3 linked regions of the Homo sapiens genome follow. The protein of the gene in region 1 purifies or fractionates together with the protein of each later gene. This does not show direct contact. Each region holds a gene or a part of one and is shown in the gene's direction. Other genes may lie near its edges.

Evidence for each region.
Region 2: the proteins of CTIF (region 1) and PPP2R2B purify together in Homo sapiens (co-immunoprecipitation; one large-scale study listed by IntAct). This does not show direct contact.
Region 3: the proteins of CTIF (region 1) and MYO1C purify together in Homo sapiens (affinity purification with mass spectrometry, with the first as the bait; one study listed by BioGRID). This does not show direct contact.

What each region holds. Positions count from the first base shown.
Region 1 is NC_000018.10:48,860,238-48,863,729, forward strand, and holds the end of CTIF (CBP80/20-dependent translation initiation factor), read left to right. Parts: 3' UTR 1-2,980; downstream 2,981-3,492. UniProt on the Homo sapiens protein: Specifically required for the pioneer round of mRNA translation mediated by the cap-binding complex (CBC), that takes place during or right after mRNA export via the nuclear pore complex (NPC).
Region 2 is NC_000005.10:146,592,117-146,595,764, reverse strand, and holds part of PPP2R2B (serine/threonine-protein phosphatase 2A 55 kDa regulatory subunit B beta isoform), read left to right. Parts: intron 1-2,702; coding exon 2,703-2,794; intron 2,795-3,648. UniProt on the Homo sapiens protein: The B regulatory subunit might modulate substrate selectivity and catalytic activity, and might also direct the localization of the catalytic enzyme to a particular subcellular compartment.
Region 3 is NC_000017.11:1,482,687-1,486,334, reverse strand, and holds part of MYO1C (unconventional myosin-Ic), read left to right. Parts: intron 1-203; exon of another isoform or gene 204-280; intron 281-574; exon of another isoform or gene 575-623; coding exon of another isoform or gene 624-641; intron 642-760; exon of another isoform or gene 761-1,210; coding exon of another isoform or gene 1,211-1,213; intron 1,214-2,031; coding exon 2,032-2,187; intron 2,188-2,609; coding exon 2,610-2,725; intron 2,726-3,275; coding exon 3,276-3,474; intron 3,475-3,648.

The sequences.
Region 1 (3,492 bases):
GCACTCTTTTGTTTATTGTGTTTTATTTTTCAAAAGTCGGTTGCTTTGAAGTCTCTTTGGCCAATGAAAATGCCCGTGATGTGATCACACAGTCAGCACTGTTGAGGACCCCCGGATTAGTGGGAGATCAAACCCAGCTCCCCTCTAGAAGAAGGATTCGAGCCACAGACAGCTTGCCAGTAGCCAATTAGGGTAATTGGAAACTTCTGCCCCGGCGGGGGGTCCCCGCTGGAATCCTGTGTTCCTCGCCACTGGCTTCCAGCGCCTCTGTTTTCTCAAAGGGCTGATACTGTCACCACTGGGACCAAGTTAAACCTGGTCCTGGCCCCAGGGGCCTTGTGGCAAACAGGGCACAGAACGAGACTGGCAAATTAAAACCAAAATTCTAGATGGTGTCTTGCGCTCCACACGCAGGTCTTACTGGGGAAAAGGATGGGAGTGGGGGCTCCCCAGGACTCGATTTTAGCTAATGCGCTGTGTCACTGCCCCAGCTCGGACGTAGAAGCCCAGCCCTCCGTGAGCTCTTGGGAAAGGGGTGAATTCACTGGGTCATGGAAGGGACAGTCAGGTGACCAGCGGGGTCGCCAGATGAAGCTTCCCAGCCGGGAAACAAGACGGGGTTTCTTGGCAGGCCCTGGTCCTGGGGAGCAGGCCCTGTTGTTGGCTGGAGAGGAAGGTGTGGGGTGGAACAGGTGTCCACATAGCTCCATCTCTGGGGGCTGGAGCACACACTTTGATGAGCCCCCCCGGAAATGATGTCAGAGCCTAGCCGCTTCCTTATTTGCTCTTTTATTGAGGCCGGGCAGGCCCTGGGTCACTTTGGAGGCCCCTCTTGGTCCACACTGGACTGGCCGGGAGGTGATGGGCGGGGAAGGTTCTCGTGATTGATTGATTCTGAGTCTGAGAGTGGCGAGTGGGGAGAGGCTTCCCCAGTTCTCTCCAGCTTTCCCTGCAGCTGCAACCTGCCCTCTGGTCCCAGGTGTGGAGCCTTTGCCTGTCTCTAAAAAGAGCCTGTTGGCGACAAGGTGTAGGGGGCACAAGTTTACCTGAAACAGGTCAGTGGTCTCTCCCAAGAAGCGCACGCCACCTCTGGTCCCTGGCCCTGAACCCTGCCTTCTTCCTCCCTCCACGGTTTCTTCCCAGACTTTCTCAAGCTCCTCCTCACTGCCCTTCCTCCCCAGCCCAGCCTGGGAACACAGATGCCCCGCGGGTAGGAGGCCTCGAGGGAGGAGCCGGGCTGATGCGGGGCTGCTCAGGGCAGGCCCCAGGGCGAGCTTGCCATCGTGGCCAGGCAGCCTCCACCTGTGCTTCAGTGGCCCCTGCCCCCCTGAAGCATGTGGGGTTTGTCCGCTAGGAGGAGGCAAGGCCCCCGAAGAGAGGAGAGACCTGGGAGTGGGAGCTCAGGTCAGGGAGGAGGCAGGGGAGTGGGGTCTCCCAGACCCAACGGTGAGCTCAGAGCAAGCTTCACGCAGGACGCTCCGAAACACTGTGTGGAGGGGGCTGTGTTGTGGGCACCTTGGGGCCTGATTCTCCTTCCTCCGAACGGGCTCCTTGATGGCCTGGCCACAGGGGCAGCTCCCCATTGGCTGTTAGGACCAGAGTGTGAAGAAGAAGTGAAATATAAATATGTATACATATATAAATATATTTTTAATTACATGTCGTGTCACGGTGGCTCCAGACATACTGTTTGCCTAGTTTATTCCACTGCTTGAAAGCGCTTCCTAGCCAATCTGAACAACAACACTTTAAGCTGTTTTTCTAAATGCAGGTTGCTGCTCCTTTTTCAGATATGGAAGGAAAACGTTAAGACTATTTTTTTTTTAAAGAAACAACAGTCAAGCCTAAAATTTGAGACCCCGAGGCAGCTTCCCGAGGGAGACTGCTCAGACAGGAACTGCAGGACAGAAGTGGATGCCCCACAGACCCTGGCCCCCTCCCCAAGTCCATCCCCTCTCTGTGGCATGAGGAAGGCCGCGTCCGAGTTGACCTCTGAATGTATGTGATGAGAGGCAGAGCTGGATATTGCATTTCTAAGGCTTGCATTGCTTTCCCCTCGCCCGCGGTTCTTGGCGCATGGAAGAGGCGGTCCAGCCATCTGATGTTGATCCTGTCTCAGTCTCCCCACTGCCTGTCAGGATGAGTTAGTCATTGTTTTTCTCCGAGGCGGCCTGCTTGCCACAGCCCTGCTCCCCAAGGCCTGGTGGCTTTGCCGAAGCTCTGGGACCGCAGCCCCAGCGAGGCCCCCAACCTCACCCAGACGAGGCCAGGAGCCCCGCCACCCTCCACGGGATGTGCACCCTCAGACCCCATTCTCTCTGTTCGTCCTTCCTTGACCAGTCTGTAAACCTTCACTGTTTGGGGATCGTCCTGTCCATCCATGTAAATGTAAATGTTGGCCGAGTCGGTATTTATTCTGATTGATTTTTATTTTATTCTATTATTTTCTCCGAGGGATGAGGGTGGGGGGTGTGGGAAGGGTACCACAGATCAGGCCGGGGCAGCTGTAGGGGCGGGGGCCCAGACAGCCAGGCCGCCACCAGAGCAGCCCCATGGGGTGCCCCAGACGCGGGCCTCCAAGAAGCCAAGTCCCAGTCTGTTTTCTGGCATCAGACACCGGCCCGTGTTCCTTGTCAGACAGACAGACTCTCAGGCCTGCCTGGGGAGTCGTGTCCCTCAGCTGCAGGGCACTGTGTTGGGAAACCATTGGCTGGGCCTTTGAGGACACAGATCAGAAGAAAGAAAGACAACTTTCCTCTGCGCGGAACACTCACACGGAAGGGCTGGCCGCCTCCCTGAGCCGGCTGGGAGTGGACGACAGGACCTACCTCCCCAGAGCAAGGGCCTGGGGCTTCCCGCCAAAGCTGCCGCGGAACCCCGCTAGTGCGACCACCCTCCCTCCGTCGGTATGTCCTGCTTTCCAGCTGAACCCAAACTACAAGTGGGTTTAAAAAAATAAACACCACCACCAAAAACAAAATGCCCAGAGTCTGTGCTCTTTGTGTGTTCAGCAAAAGAAACCTTTTCCCCAAGCTCATGTGCCTCAGCTATACTAGCAGGGCCTCCAGGAGCTGGCCCAGGAGATGAGCTGAGGGGAAGATTCTTGCAAGAAGTTGGTCCAGGAGACCATGGGTGAAGGAGACTTACTTACATCCCCCAAAACTGGGAACTAACTATGACCTATCCAAAGTGACCTGGACCTGTCCAGGATCAAGCCAGTCCTGGACAAAATGGCTTTTGCACTAAAGGTTTGGTTTAACCAACCCCCCCCAAACCTACCCCTTCCCTGGAAATGTCACTGTGGCATTTGGCAATGAGTCATTTCAAGAGGGCTGAGATTTGGGCCCAGTGGCTTTCAAAAGTCAACAGCGAGTGGCTGTCCAGTCCCAGTTGGTCAAATGAGTCTTTCATCAACGAGTCCCCAAAGGGCCCAGTGATTTCTTTTCCTGTGATGACATGTCTCTTGTTTTGCACAATCTTGTCTATGGCAAG
Region 2 (3,648 bases), on another chromosome or scaffold:
GAGGTTGCTCATGTATACATCTCACTTTATTCTTTCCTCTAGTAGAAAAAGGTCCCTCTGGTTTGCCTAAGAAGACTTTTTTTCTGTGCAACAAAACATAAATACAGCATACCTTCATAGTAGACATTCTTTTTCTTTAAATGCTGTCAATTGGAGGCAGATAGGAGCTACCCAGACCTTAGGTATGGTGGAGAAATAATGGTTCAGACTAGGTTTTCCCTTGAATCTATCCCAACTTCTATCTTTCAAGAATTATTTACAGAGTTCTCAGCAATGTCATTCCTGCTAATGGGCGTGACTTCCAAAGCACACATGTTTTGACACTTATAGAAACACTGCAGGTGAGTAATAAGACAAAATGCCGAAGGTGAATGGTGACAGATGAGGAAAGGTTCATCACAAAGCAGACATATGGAACTAGACCTTAAAAACCTTGCCACTGCCCAGTTTATATACCTTTACTGCTGTGCCCCCTAGTGAAGGTGAATGAGTTAGTTTATAGCAGAGATGCCTCTGTAAGGGCAGGACACAGCCTCACCCTTGCAGCCCCCAAATGCACCTAACAATGCCAAGAGCACTGCTGTAGGGGTATTCCCTTGTCACCAAAGCACTGAAGCTGTTACCCTGACAAGGCCTGGAACTGTTTGGAAGTGAGAGAGTAAAGGTGGGGGAAAATTAATTTGCAGAGTTAGAAATAACTTCCTCTGTCCAAATAACTCAGAGCTTTTCAAATACCCAGAACATCTAATGGAACATAGGATGAGCCTGACCTCGTTCCTTTGCCCAAGACTAAGAGCCTGAAGCTCTGCATCCAGCAGAACTGTTGGAGTCGAAGGAAGAGAAAGAGCCGCAGTTGCAGGAAAAAAGAGATCGAATCATCACTCTTAACTTAAACACCAATGCCCTTGGTAGCCTCCCTCTGCTTTCACACAGTTCTATCTCCTTCTCTCTCAGCCTCACTTGAGTTCATTATCACAGCTCCTGTCAAGGACTGAGGACCCACCAGAGCAAGCTGGAGGCAGGTTGCTAGTGCAGCTCAGAGTGTGCACTCCAGAGCCTGATACCGGGGCTCAGTTCCCTCCCCTTCTGTCACTTTTTCTGTGTGATCTTGGACAAATGATGTCATATCTCTGTGCTTCATGCTCCATTAAAGTAAAGAGAATGAAAGTACCTACATCATAAGATGGCTTTAGAGATGAAATGAGGTTTTGACAGATAAAGCACCTGGCTAATAATGACAAGCCAGCATATTGGGTATGCCCGTTATTATTGCCACTCCGTGCTAGTGGGTTCAGGAAGGATTACCTTCAAAACAGAGAACCCAGGCTACTACTCTCTGAACCTTATTCATCTATTTGGCATCTACAGCTGAGTTGCTGAATGTAGCTGGAGAAAAATATTCAACTATGCTTGATGAGCCTTATTTGACATACATGTCCAACAACGTCAAGTGTCCCCTGGTGCCTTCCAGAAATCTGACACTGTTTCTCAACCCTTTCTCTCTCCTGCTCACTCTTAGTTGATAACCATGCTGGCTGCTTTCACTGGAAAAGAGAAACCAGGAAAGAATCGCCACATACTCCAGGACAGCACCTTTCACCTCAGAGTCTACTCGACAGCTCCACATGTAGACATCTCTAAACCATTGTACCCAAAAGTGAACATGGTACCTACTCCTTCCACTTGCTCAGGAGAAAGATCAGGGAGTCATCTTTGACTCCTGTTTTTCTCTCCACACCTCAGAGTTGACCCAAGTCCTATCTGCTCTTTCCCTAAACAAAAGGAGAATCTGACCAGTCCCCATCACTGCTCATGCCCTGGTCCAGGCCAGAATCTATCACTCAGGTTATAACTGGTCTCCCTCCCTTTGCCTTTGCACCCTTAGGATCCATTGCAACACAGCAGATTCAGCAATCCTTTCTGTGAGGTCTCTTCTTCCTCAGAATAAAGGGCCTATGTAAACTGATCATCCTCTCCCCCAGCTGCTTACTCACTCCTCTCCCACCACACTCCCTCCAGGATTCCTGCCTCTAGGCCTTTATGTTTGCTGTTTCCTATGCTTGGAGAGCCTTCCCCTCACCCCAAACCCAGACATCACTGTGGCTCATTCATCTCCTGCAGGCTTCTGCTCCAGTGCTACCTCATCCAGTGAAGCCCTGACTACTTGCCCTGTATAAAATAATACACCCCCGACAAGATCTCCCAGGCTCTTTTTCCATACACTTTTGTTCTATGATTTTATCACCATCTAAACATCTTATTTATTTACTTGGTTATATAATCTGTCACCTGACACTGGGTCAAAAGCACTGCAAGGATATTTGGCTCACTGCTGCATCTCAAGTGCGTAGTAGGTATTCAGTAAATATTTGTTGAATAAAAGACTGCATGAATGGTGATCTCTAATGCCTGTGAGCAAATCAGCTTAGAAAATGAGAATCTACCACTTATTTAGTCTTACTGGATGCCACTGTCTATACAAGCAAGCTTGATTAATCCATATCATCTACATGAGAAGCTCATCAACCCATCCTAATGTCCTACAGCTAAAAGGGCCAAGCCTAGGTTCAGATCCAAGGCCATCTGATTCAAAGAGCATGTACAATGAAAGATTTAACAGCTCACATCAGAAGAGGAGGTGTTTGCAGAAATAATTACTGTTTAAAATAATAACTGACCTTCTCGATATGTTTCCTCTCCAGGTTCATGACTACCTCCGCAGCAAGCTGTGTTCCCTCTATGAAAATGACTGCATTTTTGATAAATTTGAGTGTGTGTGGAATGGGTCAGACAGGTAAGAAAGGCTCTGTGGCTGAAGAACCTTCCAAAGATTGTCTTGAAGAGGCTCAGGGAATTTATCCTAAGTAGAGTACAGCCAAAGGGAGGTCAAAATTGGGCCCCAAAACCTGGCTGAAATGCATAATGTGGGCCCCTAGTGACCCTTGAAGTCAAGGCTGGAAAGAAGAGAAGGATGTAGTAAGGCCTTTGAATCCTGTTTCTGAACTGGCACAGATAACACCTTAATGTTAATAAGAAAGTCCTATCTTTTTCACACAAGACACCTCCAGCACTAGGTCAACATGCCTAAATGAAGATCACTTATCCACCAGCAAATTCCAGCCTGAACAGTTCAGATTAATGCCAAGTAGGCTTTCCAGATCAAAAATTATCCCTTGAAGCTGCTAGTGGAGACCTGGCCAACGGCCCTGGTAGTTCATTAACTGAATTCTAGTCAACCTCATTTATCACATTCCCTCAAAGTGATTTATTACTATTTTAAGGCCTTTGATTTGAACAGTGCTTCATAATACCTCCCAATAGTTCATTTTTAGTTTGACAAATACAAATGATTCTCTGATTTCCATGAGAACTAAGTGCAAGCTACCAGGGGCTGATTTCGTTCCTTGATGAAGGTGGCACCAATAATAGTGTTTGAAAGCATAGAAATTCTGTTATGGCAAGACATTCAGAGATTCAAGCTTTCAGTGAATATGAACTGTCTCTCTCTCACACTCCACCTGTTTCTTGGCTTTCTTTGCCACTGATCCAAAATGAATCCCCTCCTTAGCAGGCTTGGAAGGAGTCTCCACGTGGCAAAGGACCCAAGTCACACTGACCAGTTGGTATAGGACAGAGAGCAAAGCAACT
Region 3 (3,648 bases), on another chromosome or scaffold:
CCCTGGGGCGCGAGCTCCGTGCTGACGAGGAAAACCAAGATCTTCCTGGGTTCGAGGCTCGGACCAGGCCCCGGCGCGTGTGGGTGGACGGCGTCCCGCACGGAGAACGCTCCGCCCGCCGGGCGCGCCGGCCGTATTTGGACATTGGTTCTATTTTTAACTTTCCCGGGACTCGAGTTCGGGGGTTGGGGGAGGAAAATCCCGCTTCCTCTGGGACCCGCAGGCCTCGGTGCCCGCCCAGCGCCCAGGCCCGCCGCGGAGTGTAGTCCCAGGCCCGGAAGTGAGTTCCGGGTCGGTGTAGACGCGGCGGCCGCGCGGGTTCCGGGCTCCACCCTGGTGCCAACGGCGTCCCTCCTGGAAAACCTGACTCAGGCGGAGCCCGCCCCCGCCCCCGGCCCGCGGACCCCCCGCCCCGACACCCCCACCTCCACCAACCCCACCTGGAGGGGACCCCAGCCCGGCCGCGCGGGAGGCGGGGGAGGCCGGGGAAGCCCCGCGCTTCAGGGGCCCGGGTGGGGGCGGTGCGGGGGGCGGGCCCTCCCTCGCTGACGCCGCCGCCACCGCCGCCGAGCCCGGGACCCGGAGCGCGGGCAGCGGAGCGGGCGCCAGGCCGGCCGGGCAGGATGCGCTACCGGGCGTCGGTGAGCCTGGGGGCGGCGGGGCAGGGCGGGGGGTCCCGGGCGTCCCTCCCCACCTCGCGGCGTCGCCTCGGCCTCGCCAGGAAGCGGGCGCGGCCCAGGAATTCCGGGTGGAAAAACGTCCCGGGAAGTTGCAGGGGGAGGAGGCCGAGGCGGGGAGGGCGGCGCGGGACGCTCGGACCCGGGGCCGGATGAGGAGCCGCCGGGGACGCCTGAGAACGCGGAGACCCCTGACCCGAGGGCGAGGGGGCGGGGACCGCGGCCGGATTTGGCAGCCGCTTCGGCGCGGGATTGGAGCGGGGCGGTGAGGACAAGCCTGGGAGGGGCAGGCCCCCGGCCAGAAATCTGGGCCTTTCGTGGTCAGAGGACACCGGCGGCCCCTTTGGGATCCACCCCCAATCACCACCACCTTGTTCTTCTCTGACCCTGGATACTCTGGGTGTCCATTTTTTGGAGCCCTGAGACCCTGTTTGAAGAGGGATCCATCTCAGCCCTGGTTGTGGGGCGAGGGTCTTGCTCAGCCTGCACCACCCTCCACCCTCCAGTAGGACCCAGAGGCAGCTGGGCTTTCCATGGTAAAGCCCCCATCCCCTGAGGCTTCTCAGGACTCTCAGTGGAGGAGGTGCCTGGGGAGCCCAGCAGCTGGAGGAAAGGGAGTGGCCCCAGCCATGCGAGGGAGGGCCTCCCCCGCGTTCTGGAGTGGGTGGCTGAGCCCAGCTGGGGTGGGAGGCCCTCTGGGGGAACCCCTCTGGTGTAGTCTGGGAGTAACCTCTTGCTTGGTGCTCGACGCTCTACCGGTGGAGGTGGGGGTGGGTCTGGGTGGGAGAGACGGCCCCACCCTGCCTGCAGAATTGACCCTGAGCCATTTGTCCTCCAAAGCACCTGTCACACGTGGCTCAGAGCTGAGGGACCTGAGGTCACCTGGTCTAACTCAACTCCTCCTCCTTTAGGAGGAAGGAACCAGAGAGAGGAGGGGATTGGTCCAAGCTCAACAGAGCAGTCTTTCTGCTATTTCAAGGAGTTCCTTCTTGTGACCCCCCCTTTCTCCACCCAAAACCAGCACCTCCCGGGTTCTGCCCTCTGGTCCTGCCTGCGTCCATGCCCTGTGTCCGAGTCCCAAGTGGTTCATGTTGTCTCTGTTCTGTGCCCGCAGCCTCGGTGATCCCTCTGCTGCCACACTGGGACCCGGGCCCTCCACACCCGGCTTTCCGCACCCGGCCCACCACACCCAGGCCCTCAGCACCCAGGCCCCCCGCACCCGTCATGCTCATGTCCCGTGTCTAGCCCGGAGTCCACAAGCCCCTACGTTCCCTCTCAGTCCCACAGGCGCAGGGAAGTGGCCTTGCCCCGCCCCCGATGACTCTGACCCTCTTCTGTGGCCCATTCTCTGCAGGCCCTGGGCAGTGACGGGGTTCGGGTGACCATGGAGAGTGCGCTCACCGCCCGTGACCGGGTGGGGGTGCAGGATTTCGTGCTGCTGGAGAACTTCACCAGCGAGGCCGCCTTCATCGAGAACCTGCGGCGGCGATTTCGGGAGAATCTCATCTACGTGAGGCCCTTGTGGGGAGATGGCAGGGGTGCTGGGGTCACAGACACAGGCAAGCGGAGGGGAAAGAGACACCAAGGGTCACCGGGATAAACTTTTTTTTTTTTTTTGAGACAGTTTCACTCTTGTTGCCCAGGCTGGAGTGCAGTGGCGCGATCTCAGCTCACTGTAACCTCCTCCCCCCGGGTTCAAGCGATTCTCCTGCCTCAGCCTCCCGAGTAGCTGGGATTACAGGCACCCGCCACCACGCCCGGCTAATTTTGTATTTTTAGTAGAGACGGATTTCTCCATGTTGGTCAGGTTGGTCTTGAACTCCCGACCTCAGGTGATCCGCCCACCTTGGCCTCCCAAAGTGCTGGGATTACAGGCATGAGCCATCGCACCTGGCCCGGGATAAACTTTGGACCCTCTTCCCCCGATCCCAGACCTACATTGGCCCCGTCCTGGTCTCTGTCAATCCCTACCGGGACCTGCAGATCTACAGCCGGCAGCATATGGAGCGTTACCGTGGCGTCAGCTTCTATGAAGTGCCCCCTCACCTGTGAGTGACCCCAGCCCCTCCGGGAGCGACCCCTCTGTCTCCATCTGAGGTGACCCCGCCCAACCCTTACCTTACTCTGAAATGATCCTGGCGTCCCGCGCCACATCTGTGAGGAATCCCACAGTCTCTTGCCCCCCAGTGACCAGAGATGAATGTCGCAACTCAGCTCCATGTGGGTGGGACTCAGTCCCTACCCCGACTCACACCCATGACTTATTCCCCAACTGGGAGTGGCCCCCCAATCTTAGTGACCTCTGAACCCCACCTGCAAAGACCCCCCCCAGCCCTACCCGTGAGTGACTCCAGCCTCCACCTAAGTGACCTCCAGCCTCCCACCTGTGAGAGCCTCTCAGTCCTCCCGCTGGCGGTGACGCCCATTCTCAGCTATGACGGATCTCCCATGGCCCACACCTGTGAGGGACCCCCAGTCCCCATCCTCAAGGGTGTATTCGACTCCCACAAGAGGACTCCACCCAGATGTGGGAGCGGGACTCTCGTGGGGCTCTGCTTGGCCCCCCTCCCCAAACTCCCTGACGAGCCTCCGCCCCAGGTTTGCCGTGGCGGACACTGTGTACCGAGCACTGCGCACGGAGCGTCGGGACCAGGCTGTGATGATCTCTGGGGAGAGCGGGGCAGGCAAGACCGAGGCCACCAAGAGGCTGCTGCAGTTCTATGCAGAGACCTGCCCAGCCCCCGAGCGCGGAGGTGCCGTGCGGGACCGGCTGCTACAGAGCAACCCGGTGCTGGAGGTGAGGGGCAGGGAGAGAAGCCCAGTGCCAGTGCGGGAGGGGAGGGGCAGGGAGAGAAGCCCAGTGTGGGAGGGGAGGGCAGGGAGAGAAGGCTAGTGTGGGAGGGGAGGGGAGGGGCAGGGAGAGAAGCCCAGTGCAGGAGGGGAGGGGAGGGCAGGGAGAGAAGCCCAGTGC